Linked DNA regions of Homo sapiens: all the other regions are linked to region 1. The links come from fine-mapping of genetic effects on gene expression. A gene starts in region 1. Each other region holds a variant in brackets. All regions are shown on one strand. Distances are between the middles of the regions.

Region 1 (2,796 bases):
AAAATCCCTGTAAACTAAGTGGCTGGGTCCAGAGTGTGACATACCCTGAAGCAAGACAGTGAGGGTTTACCGCTGCCCCTGCCAGATCAATGCAAGGGATTCCTGGTGTTTGGTACAGAAGAATAACCATTGACCAGACCTCTTGTTGCCTATTAGAGACCAACAACTGTGCTGATCTGTCCCAAGAAGGACCGCATCTGGAAGAATGCCTGCAGTTGGGGTTCTTACCAGAATAAGTAAGTTTATCATAATGCTCTGTTGTTCTTCAAGGCCGTCTCTCTTCTGTTCTGGGCAAACTGAAGAGGTAATGGTGATGTGATGGGACTCACCCTGCGTCTTTCAAATCTTTGATAGTGGCATTAATCCCTGGGTGAGATAAGGTACTATTTTTGATTTATTTTCTTGGTAGTTAAGGAGAGCTCCAGGGCCTTCCATGTAGCTCTTCCTTTCAAAATAGCCCTTGCCCCATGGGTTAGGAAGCCAGTGTCAGGATTCCGCCCCTGTTGATACCAATAGCAACTCTGCATATAACCACAATTTCAGAGTACATAGCCCAGGCATGAGACAGACTTCACTCAAAACTTTTTTTTTTTAATCTGTGCCATGTACATGTATTATACAGTATATTCACAAAAAGAGGGGGGAAATTCCATTTTTAACAATTAAATACATAATTATTAAGTTTTAAAAATTCTCCTTTGTGTACCACTCCAAAATCCTCTCCTGCACATACTATTTTTTTGGAAACACCTAGTCGTCTCATCGTTATCACACCGGTTGTAACTATGTACCTACGTGTCTACCTTCCCCATCAGACTCGGGAACAAGGAGTCGGGTTTGAGTCCCACTGTCCCAAGCACAGAACGCTGGACTCCCAGTAGACCATATGTTGCAAATAAAGACCTTCGTCCCTTTCAACTCAGGCCGTCCACGAGCCCAGGAGTTCCAACAAAATGATGTACAGCAACCTTTTCCAGGCCTTTATGTTGCCTCAATATTTCTCACCTGCAAAATGGGAATGATCCGTACCTGCCTCGCTGTGCTGTCGGAAGGAGTCAGACGATGGGTGTGAAAGTATTGTAACACTATAGAAATTAATTCACTCATCCATTTAACAGGCAATTATTAAGTGCTAGGGTGGTGCAGCGCGATTACCACCGCATTACACGCGTTCCTCCAGCAGGTTGCATCCTTCCCGTCCCGCGTAGGGGGGGAAGGGCGTCTCCCCACCAAGTTTTTCTCCCAGCGAACTCCGGGTGGTGACCTTATTCAAAATGGCGCAGGCGGCCTCGGGGGCTAGTGCGGCGGCGCGGACTCCGCGTGCCCTCTGACCTGTTGGCAGCAGGCGGAGGGGGGGAACCGGGCGCCGCCATATTGGCTGTTGTCCTGTGAGGGGAGCGGTAGCGGCGGCGGCGGCGGCGGCGGCGGCGGCGGCGGCGGCGGCGTGTGGAGCGAGGGAGCGGCGCGAGCGGCGGCATGACGCGGAGGCGGAGCAGGCCGAGCGGCGGTGCGGGCAGGCGCGAGCGGGCTCGGGCCGCGGGGCCGCAGAAGCCCCAGGCGCCCGAGCCCCCGCCGCCGCCAAGCCTGGAGGCGGGAGCGGGTGCAGGCCCTCCGGAGGCGCCGGCGGAGCCCGACCACGACGGCCCCAGGGAGGATGACGAACCCAACCTGGTGCCCGGCCCGCAGGTAGGAGCGAGCGGGGAGACTTCGGCGGCTCGGGCGCTTTCACCTTCCCCGAGCGGGAGCGGGAGTGGGGCGGGGTTGGGGATGGGCCATCCTGCCGCGGCTGGGGTAGCAGCCTTCCCCCGGGTCCGGCGCCGAAGCTTTCTCCCCCGGGGCGGGAATGGAGGCTGGACCCCTCTCCCCAAAGCCGAGGCTCGGTCCGCGCTCCTGCGACTAGGCTGAAGCTGCTCCCCTCTCCCCGCCGCCTCCGGGCGTTCCGGCCGTACACCCACACTGGGACTGGGACTGGGACTGGGCTGTGATCCCGAGGCCGCAGCTCCGCTCTCGGCCCGCCACCTCCCCCGGGCCCACCTGCTCCCTCAGCCACAGGCCATCTCGGGGCTCTGGGACTGGACGACTGCAGCCTCTTCCCTCTGCCCCCGGGAACGGCTCCACTCCGTCCCCTGCAGCGCCTGCAGCCGCGGCCCCCTCAGCAGCTGTGTCTCCTGGCGCCTCCTCGCCATACCCAGCAGAGCAGTTGGAGCAGACAGCCAGGCTGCCCGGAGGAGTTTTTGGTGGGGTTTCTGCACTGAGGTGGAAACCCAGCAGAACCTGCCCTTCTTCCCTCCCCTGCTCCGCAAGGCAGCCCACCCCGACCTTGAGATCCCAGGTTTGGAGAATCCTGCTGAGAGCGAACAGTAGGAGGATTCCCCAAAGCTTCCAGCTTGCCACCTGGAAGAAGGTCACTTTCTTTTGAGCAAAGGAGATAACGGGAGGTACCCTGCCAAAGTTCACTGAGAGGCGGGGGTGACATGGGCCACGGTTGCTCTGGGAGGGTTGTGGCACTCGGGGCTGGGTGGCTCTCCCTAAGCTTGCTCTGACAAAAGAGTTTTGAGTTGGTCTTTTGGCTGAGCCTGCCCAGGAAGGCAGGCTCCTGCAGGAGTCTTGGAGGGTCGGATGCGGCGCCGGATGAGGATGAGGCGTGGCGGAAGATGCGTTTGGCTCTGCAGACACTGCATCGGGCAGCAGGGGACTCTGGGAGGCTGGTGCAGCCAGAAGGCATGGCTCTTGACAGCCTTCTAGTAGAATCTCTGGAATTGTGCATGTGAGTGGGGTTGCCGTTTGGGGTACCTT
Region 2 (2,796 bases), 67 kb after region 1:
TTTTTTTTTTTTGAAACAGAGTCTCACTGTGTTGCCCACGTTGGCGTGCAGTGGCGCGATCTCGGCTCACTGCAACCTCTGCCTCCTGGGTTCAAGAGATTCTCCTGCCTCAGCCTCCTGAGTAGCTGGGATTACAGGCACCCGCCACCATGCCTGGCTAATTTTGTATTTTTAGTAGAGACGGGGTTTTACCATGTTGGCCAGGCTGGTCTCAAACTCCTCACCTCAGGTGATCTCAGGCCTGCCTTGGCCTCCCAAAGTGCTGGGACTACAGGTGTGAGCCACTGTGCCCAGCCGACTCTATCAGCTCTTGCCAGGTAGAACAGGCAGGCCAGCAGGACAGGGCAGCTCCAGGGTTTGCCCAGGGGCGGCTCAGCTTTTATGAGGCTCCAGTCGTCAGCCCTTCCTCCCGGGGTCCTCCCTGCTCTAAAGCTGCCTCTCCTGTCACCAGCAGTTCAGTGTGGCGGACTGGCTCTGTAAGCTTCACGGCTGCCACGGTCACTTCCCAAGCCTGTCTTCTATCCTATGTGGAAAATGGGGAGAATGAACTGTCCCTCCCAAGGCCTCCTGGTGGGTGGTCAGTCAACCTGAAGGGGGCCAAGACCCCCACCTCTCTGCGTGTGCTCCCTCTGACCGCTCTCGCCTCCCTGCAGGGGCCGCTACCTGGTGGCGCTGGGCCACGCGTACCACCCGGAGGAGTTTGTGTGTAGCCAGTGTGGGAAGGTCCTGGAAGAGGGTGGCTTCTTTGAGGAGAAGGGCGCCATCTTCTGCCCACCATGCTATGACGTGCGCTATGCACCCAGCTGTGCCAAGTGCAAGAAGAAGATTACAGGCGTGAGTAGGGCTGGCTGGCGGGGAGGTGGTCCCAAGCCTGTCAGTGGGAACGAGGGCTGCTGGGAAACCCACAGTCCAGGTCTCTCCCCGAGTGAGCCCTCCGGGTCCTTACCAGCGTAATAAATGGGCTGCTGTACTGGCCTCACCCTGCATTAGTCAGGATGCTCTTAACAAATGACCATGTTCCTGCTCAGAAACCGCCCAAGGCTGCAAAGAGCAGGAGGACCAAGCCAGGAGAAGCCCTGGGCCCTCCTGACTCCCACTTTGGGCTCTCCCTGCCCTGGTGAAATGACAGAACGGCCAACTTGACACGCTGAAGCTGCTCTGTCTCATGCGTCCTCCTCATTTCTGGATCCAGAGCCAGGGCTGCCAGGAGTAGCCAGAGAGCTCTGTGTGGTGATGTTCATATTAGTGAGGTTTACCTTGACCACGAGCAGTGGGAAACTCAAAATAATGGTGGCTTATTTCTCATCTAAAAACATCCCGGGGTGGGTGGTCTGGGACTGATCTGGTGGACCCAGGCTCCGCCTTGTTGCTTGACTGTTGGCAGCACCTGCTTACTTACCACTCATGGTGCAAGATGACACTTCAGCCTCCGCCAAAATGCTCACCTTCCAGCCAGCAGGAAGTCGGAAGGAGAAGAAAGGGGACAGAGCCCCATGGCGTCCATCCTTAGAGGATGCTGCCACCTGAACCTCTGCTTTCATCCTGTTGGTCAGAACCCAGTCACATGACCACACCCAGTGGCAACGGAGGCTGGGAAATATAGTCTTTATTTTGGGCACCCATGTGTCCAGCAAAACTGGGGGTTCCATCAGTCGGCAAGAATGGGAGAGTGGC[C/T]GATGCAGTGGCTGATGCTTGTATCCCAGCACTTTGGGAGGTCGAGGTGGGCAGATCACCTGAGGTCAGGAGTTCAAGACCAGCCTGGCCAATATGGTGAAACCCTGTCTCTACTAAAAATAAAAAAATTAGCTGGGTGTGCTGGCGCACCTGTAGTCCCAGCTACTTGGGAGGCTGAGGCAGGAGAATCGCTTGATCTTGAGAGGTGGAGGTTGCAGTGAGCCAAGATTGTGCCACTGCCTTCCAGCCTGGGAGACAGCAAAAAAAAAAAAAAAAAAAAAAAAAAAAAAAAAAAAGGGCCAGGCACGGTGGCTCACACCTGTAATCCCAGCACTTTGGGAGGCCGAGATGGGCGGATCACGAGGTCAGGAGATTGAGACCATCCTGGCTAACACGGTGAAACCCCATCTCTACTAAAAATACAAAAAAATTGGCCGGGCATGGTGGAGTAGTCCCAGCTACTCGGGAGGCTGAGGCAGGAGAATGGCGTGAACCTGGGAGGCAGAGCTTGCAGTGAGCCGAGATCGCGCCACTGCACTCCAGCCTGGGCGACAGAGCGAGACTCTTGTCTCAAAAAGAAAAAAAGAAAGAGAAATCTGCCTCCCAGCCTTGGGCTCCTGCCCTACCAGCCCACACCCCTGGTAGAGCCCCCTCTCCCACCAGCTCAAAGCCCAAGTTCCTTCACTGTGACCTTGTCTGCTCCTCTAAAACAGGCAACACCAGACAGTGAGAAGAGCCAGCCAGACATGGGCAGAAAACCTATTTCTGTGATCTACTGGCTGTGTGAGCAGGGGCTAGTTGCTCTCTCTGGGCCTCACTGAAGAGAAGGGTGGCACTATGCTAGGGCCGGCACGGTTGCAAGGTAGATGTAAGATGGGGTACAGGTGTTGTGGAGGGCAGAAATGCACCATCCGAAGGCTACATGTCCCCCACACTTATGTCTTGCTTGGCCCACACTGTTTCATTTTAAAATCAGTAGCAAACAATTTAAAAAATCAGAAGATTTGCCTGCATGATGCAGTGGCTCATGCCTGTAATCCCAGCACTTTGGGAGGCCAAGGTGGGAGGATTGCTTGAGCCCAGGAGTTCAAGACCAGCATGGGCACCATAGCAAGACCCCTG
Region 3 (2,669 bases), 170 kb before region 1:
CAGAATTGGAAGACTCCACCATTACAGGCAGCCACCAGCAGGTAATTGATCTCCTCTTATATGCTGGCTGTCTTTTATCCTCTTTCTGACTCATGAGCTCCTTTTTTAGCTCTAGTCCTTTTCCTCTTTCCCTCTCTTGTGATTGTTCTCCTGAAGGACCTGGTCTCATCCCACAGTTGAGGTCCTCGGGTCTTCAGTGTCGATAAAATCCCTCTCCAGCCCTCCTGCCCACTGCCTTGGCATTGCCCTGTTTACTGGCCCCCAGGTTGCAGCTTTGAATCTTGCTGAACAACCCTACAGGGTCCAGGGGAGGGGGCTGGGCTGGGGTCAGAAGAGCTGGACCCCACCCTGCTGGAGGGACCCCCCAGTGACATCTGGGTCTGCTCTGGACACCGCCTTCACAGATAGGTCTTTTCCTGCACTGGCGTCTCTGGACATGCACAATTGTTCTCTTCCTCACAGATGTCAGCAAGTCCTTCCTCTGCACCTGCAGAAGAAGCAACAGAAAAGACCAAAGTGGAAGAGGAAGTGTGAGTGTGCAGTGGGCAGAATGATGAGGGAAGTGGGCACGTGCCCATGTTCTTCTTGGCTACGCTCACTTTCTTGTTGTCCCATCAGGAAAACCAGAAAGCCCAAGAAGAAAACCAGGAAGCCCAGCAAGAAAAGCCGGTGGAATGTCCTGAAATGTTGGGACATTTTTAATATATTTTAGAGACCTCTGAAGGCAAGTGAAGGATGCCCTGAGAACATGCTCCAGGAAACAGACACCCACTCCATAGCAGCCCCTGAGCCTGCTGGGCTGAGCCCTCCACAGGCTGCTTAGTGAGGGAGACACTGAGGTGCTGGTCGCACCCCCATGTGCAGGACTCCAAGGGCTTTGCACTGTGTTGTCTGCAGTAACTCTTCAGCTCACCAACATCTCATTTGGGGGGACCTAGCTCTGTCTTCCCAGCCCCTTGAGGACAACAGGGAGCATCACTAGTTCATCCTGAGGAGACACTAGGGTTGACATGAATCCCCCTGGTTCAGGCCTCCTGGGAAAGGTGTGAGAGGGATGGAGGCACCCCCAGGCTCCTTGTCACACAAGCGAGCAGCCCACCCGACCCAGTATTGCAGGCCAGCAGGCCCTCAGTAGGTCCTGGTGTCAAGCAGGGGACACGGCAGGATCCAAGAAGCACTGAAATGTGTCCAGTCCCAGGAGTCCTTCAG[C/T]CTCTGGGGGGTCTGGGGGCCTCCAGTTCCAGGGGTCCTTCAGCCTCTGTGGGGGCCTGGGGTGGCCTCATGGCCCCCTTTTTCAAGATGAGGTTGGAGGCTTCTGTATGTAGAGGGCACTGGCTTGGGCCAAATGCCAACAAAACAAACCCTTGAAGACATTTCAGGGCCATGCTCACTTGGGAGGGTTTGAGGACATGATTTAGCGAGCCTCTGTTTTTTAAATATATTTTCCAATCTTGAAATAAGGTACACATATGAATGTGTGTGTGTGTGTGTGTACATATACACTGTTTTTCACTTTCAAATGTATGTCTTCTGTAACCCTTTTATGCTAGAATATACAAACATGAGAAATTTGTGTCTTACCAAAGCATAATTTTAAAAATTACAAAGCAAAGACAGGTCCGGTGGGGATGCTAGAAAGACCAGGTCTTATTAGGCAATAACAATGACATGCTCCAGGAAGCTATGCATGTTCAACGTGCAGCTCTTCTCCAGGAAGCTATGCATGTTCAACGTGCAGCTCTTCTCCAGGAAGCTATGCATGTTCAACGTGCAGCTCTTCTCCAGGAAGCTATGCATATTCAACGTGCAGCTCTTCCGTCTGGATGGCACAGAGGATCTGGGTGGCAAGGCAGGGTCACCACCCCCACCCTGTGTCATGAGACCTCCTGCTCCTCTTAGGGCCCAGGGGCATGGGACTCTGCCTGTTGATCCTGGTATGCTTGAAATTCCGTTTCTGTGTGTCTGTTTTACCCTCCGGGGAACCAGCCCCCTGAAGGTGCCCGTGTGAGCGCCCAGGTTCATTCTTCCTCCATGACACTCACACTCTCTGTGGACAGATAACTCCTCAGCAGAGAGCAGCACACAGGGCTCAGTGCCTTGACATCTGAGTAGACCTGATTGTGGGGAGCTCAGGGGCCCCAGGTCACCTTCCAGGGCCCAAGGAGGTCTCTGAGACCTGCACACCCATCCCAGGGAGCCCCTCCTCCCTCTACCTCTGTGCCTCTCTAGTGACCCTTGCACCTCTGTCTGTGTTGCAGATTCCTCGACCACCAGGAAGGGCCCCGACGTGGGGATGTCAACATGGCTCAGACTTGATGTGGATCGTGATCATTTCGGGAAATGTGTTACTCCAAAAACTTTTATAATCTTTGCTTAATTTGTTTTTAAATACTTTCCTGGCTGGGCGTGGTGGCTTATGCCTGTAATCCCAGCACTTTGGGAGGCCGAGGCGGGTGGATCACCTGAGGTCAGGAGTTCAAGACCAGCCTGGCCAACAAGGTGAAACCCCGTCTCTACTAAAAATACAAAAATTAGCTAGGCGTGGTGGCGCACTCTTGTAGTCCCAGCTATTTGGGAGGCTGAGGCAGGAGAATCACTTGAACTCAGGAGGCGGAGGTTGCGGTGAGCCGAGATCATGCCACTGCACCCCAGCACCTGGCTACAGAGTGAGA

The links. PIP is the estimated chance that this variant, and not a neighbour inherited with it, causes the effect.
Region 2: its variant is fine-mapped to the expression of FAM193B-DT in whole blood (INTERVAL, PIP 0.92).
Region 3: its variant is fine-mapped to the expression of FAM193B-DT in whole blood (INTERVAL, PIP 0.94).

The regions. Positions count from the first base shown.
Region 1 is chr5:177,553,139-177,555,934 of GRCh38, reverse strand. It overlaps FAM193B-DT (FAM193B divergent transcript), which reads right to left and starts at 1,307. Exons shown (of 3, transcript XR_941274.3): 1 at 1,006-1,307. FAM193B (family with sequence similarity 193 member B) reads left to right here and starts at 1,372. Exons shown (of 9, transcript NM_001190946.3): 1 at 1,372-1,686. The coding sequence starts at 1,477. RefSeq lists enhancers at 1,114-1,263, 1,284-1,443, 1,170-1,673 and silencers at 1,554-1,763, 2,094-2,203.
Region 2 is chr5:177,486,106-177,488,901 of GRCh38, reverse strand. It overlaps PDLIM7 (PDZ and LIM domain 7), which reads left to right. Exons shown (of 13, transcript NM_005451.5): 10 at 654-834. Among named protein-coding and RNA genes, the nearest start is that of PDLIM7, 10 kb to the left of the region's middle. The variant C/T (reference allele first, on the strand shown) is at 1,675.
Region 3 is chr5:177,722,156-177,724,824 of GRCh38, reverse strand. It overlaps FAM153A (family with sequence similarity 153 member A), which reads left to right. Exons shown (of 23, transcript NM_001413826.1): 21 at 4-41; 22 at 463-530; 23 at 619-1,461. The coding sequence ends at 712. All of the region lies in intron 4 of LOC107986489 (a long non-coding RNA gene), which reads right to left. Among named protein-coding and RNA genes, the nearest start is that of FAM153A, 59 kb to the left of the region's middle. The variant C/T (reference allele first, on the strand shown) is at 1,210.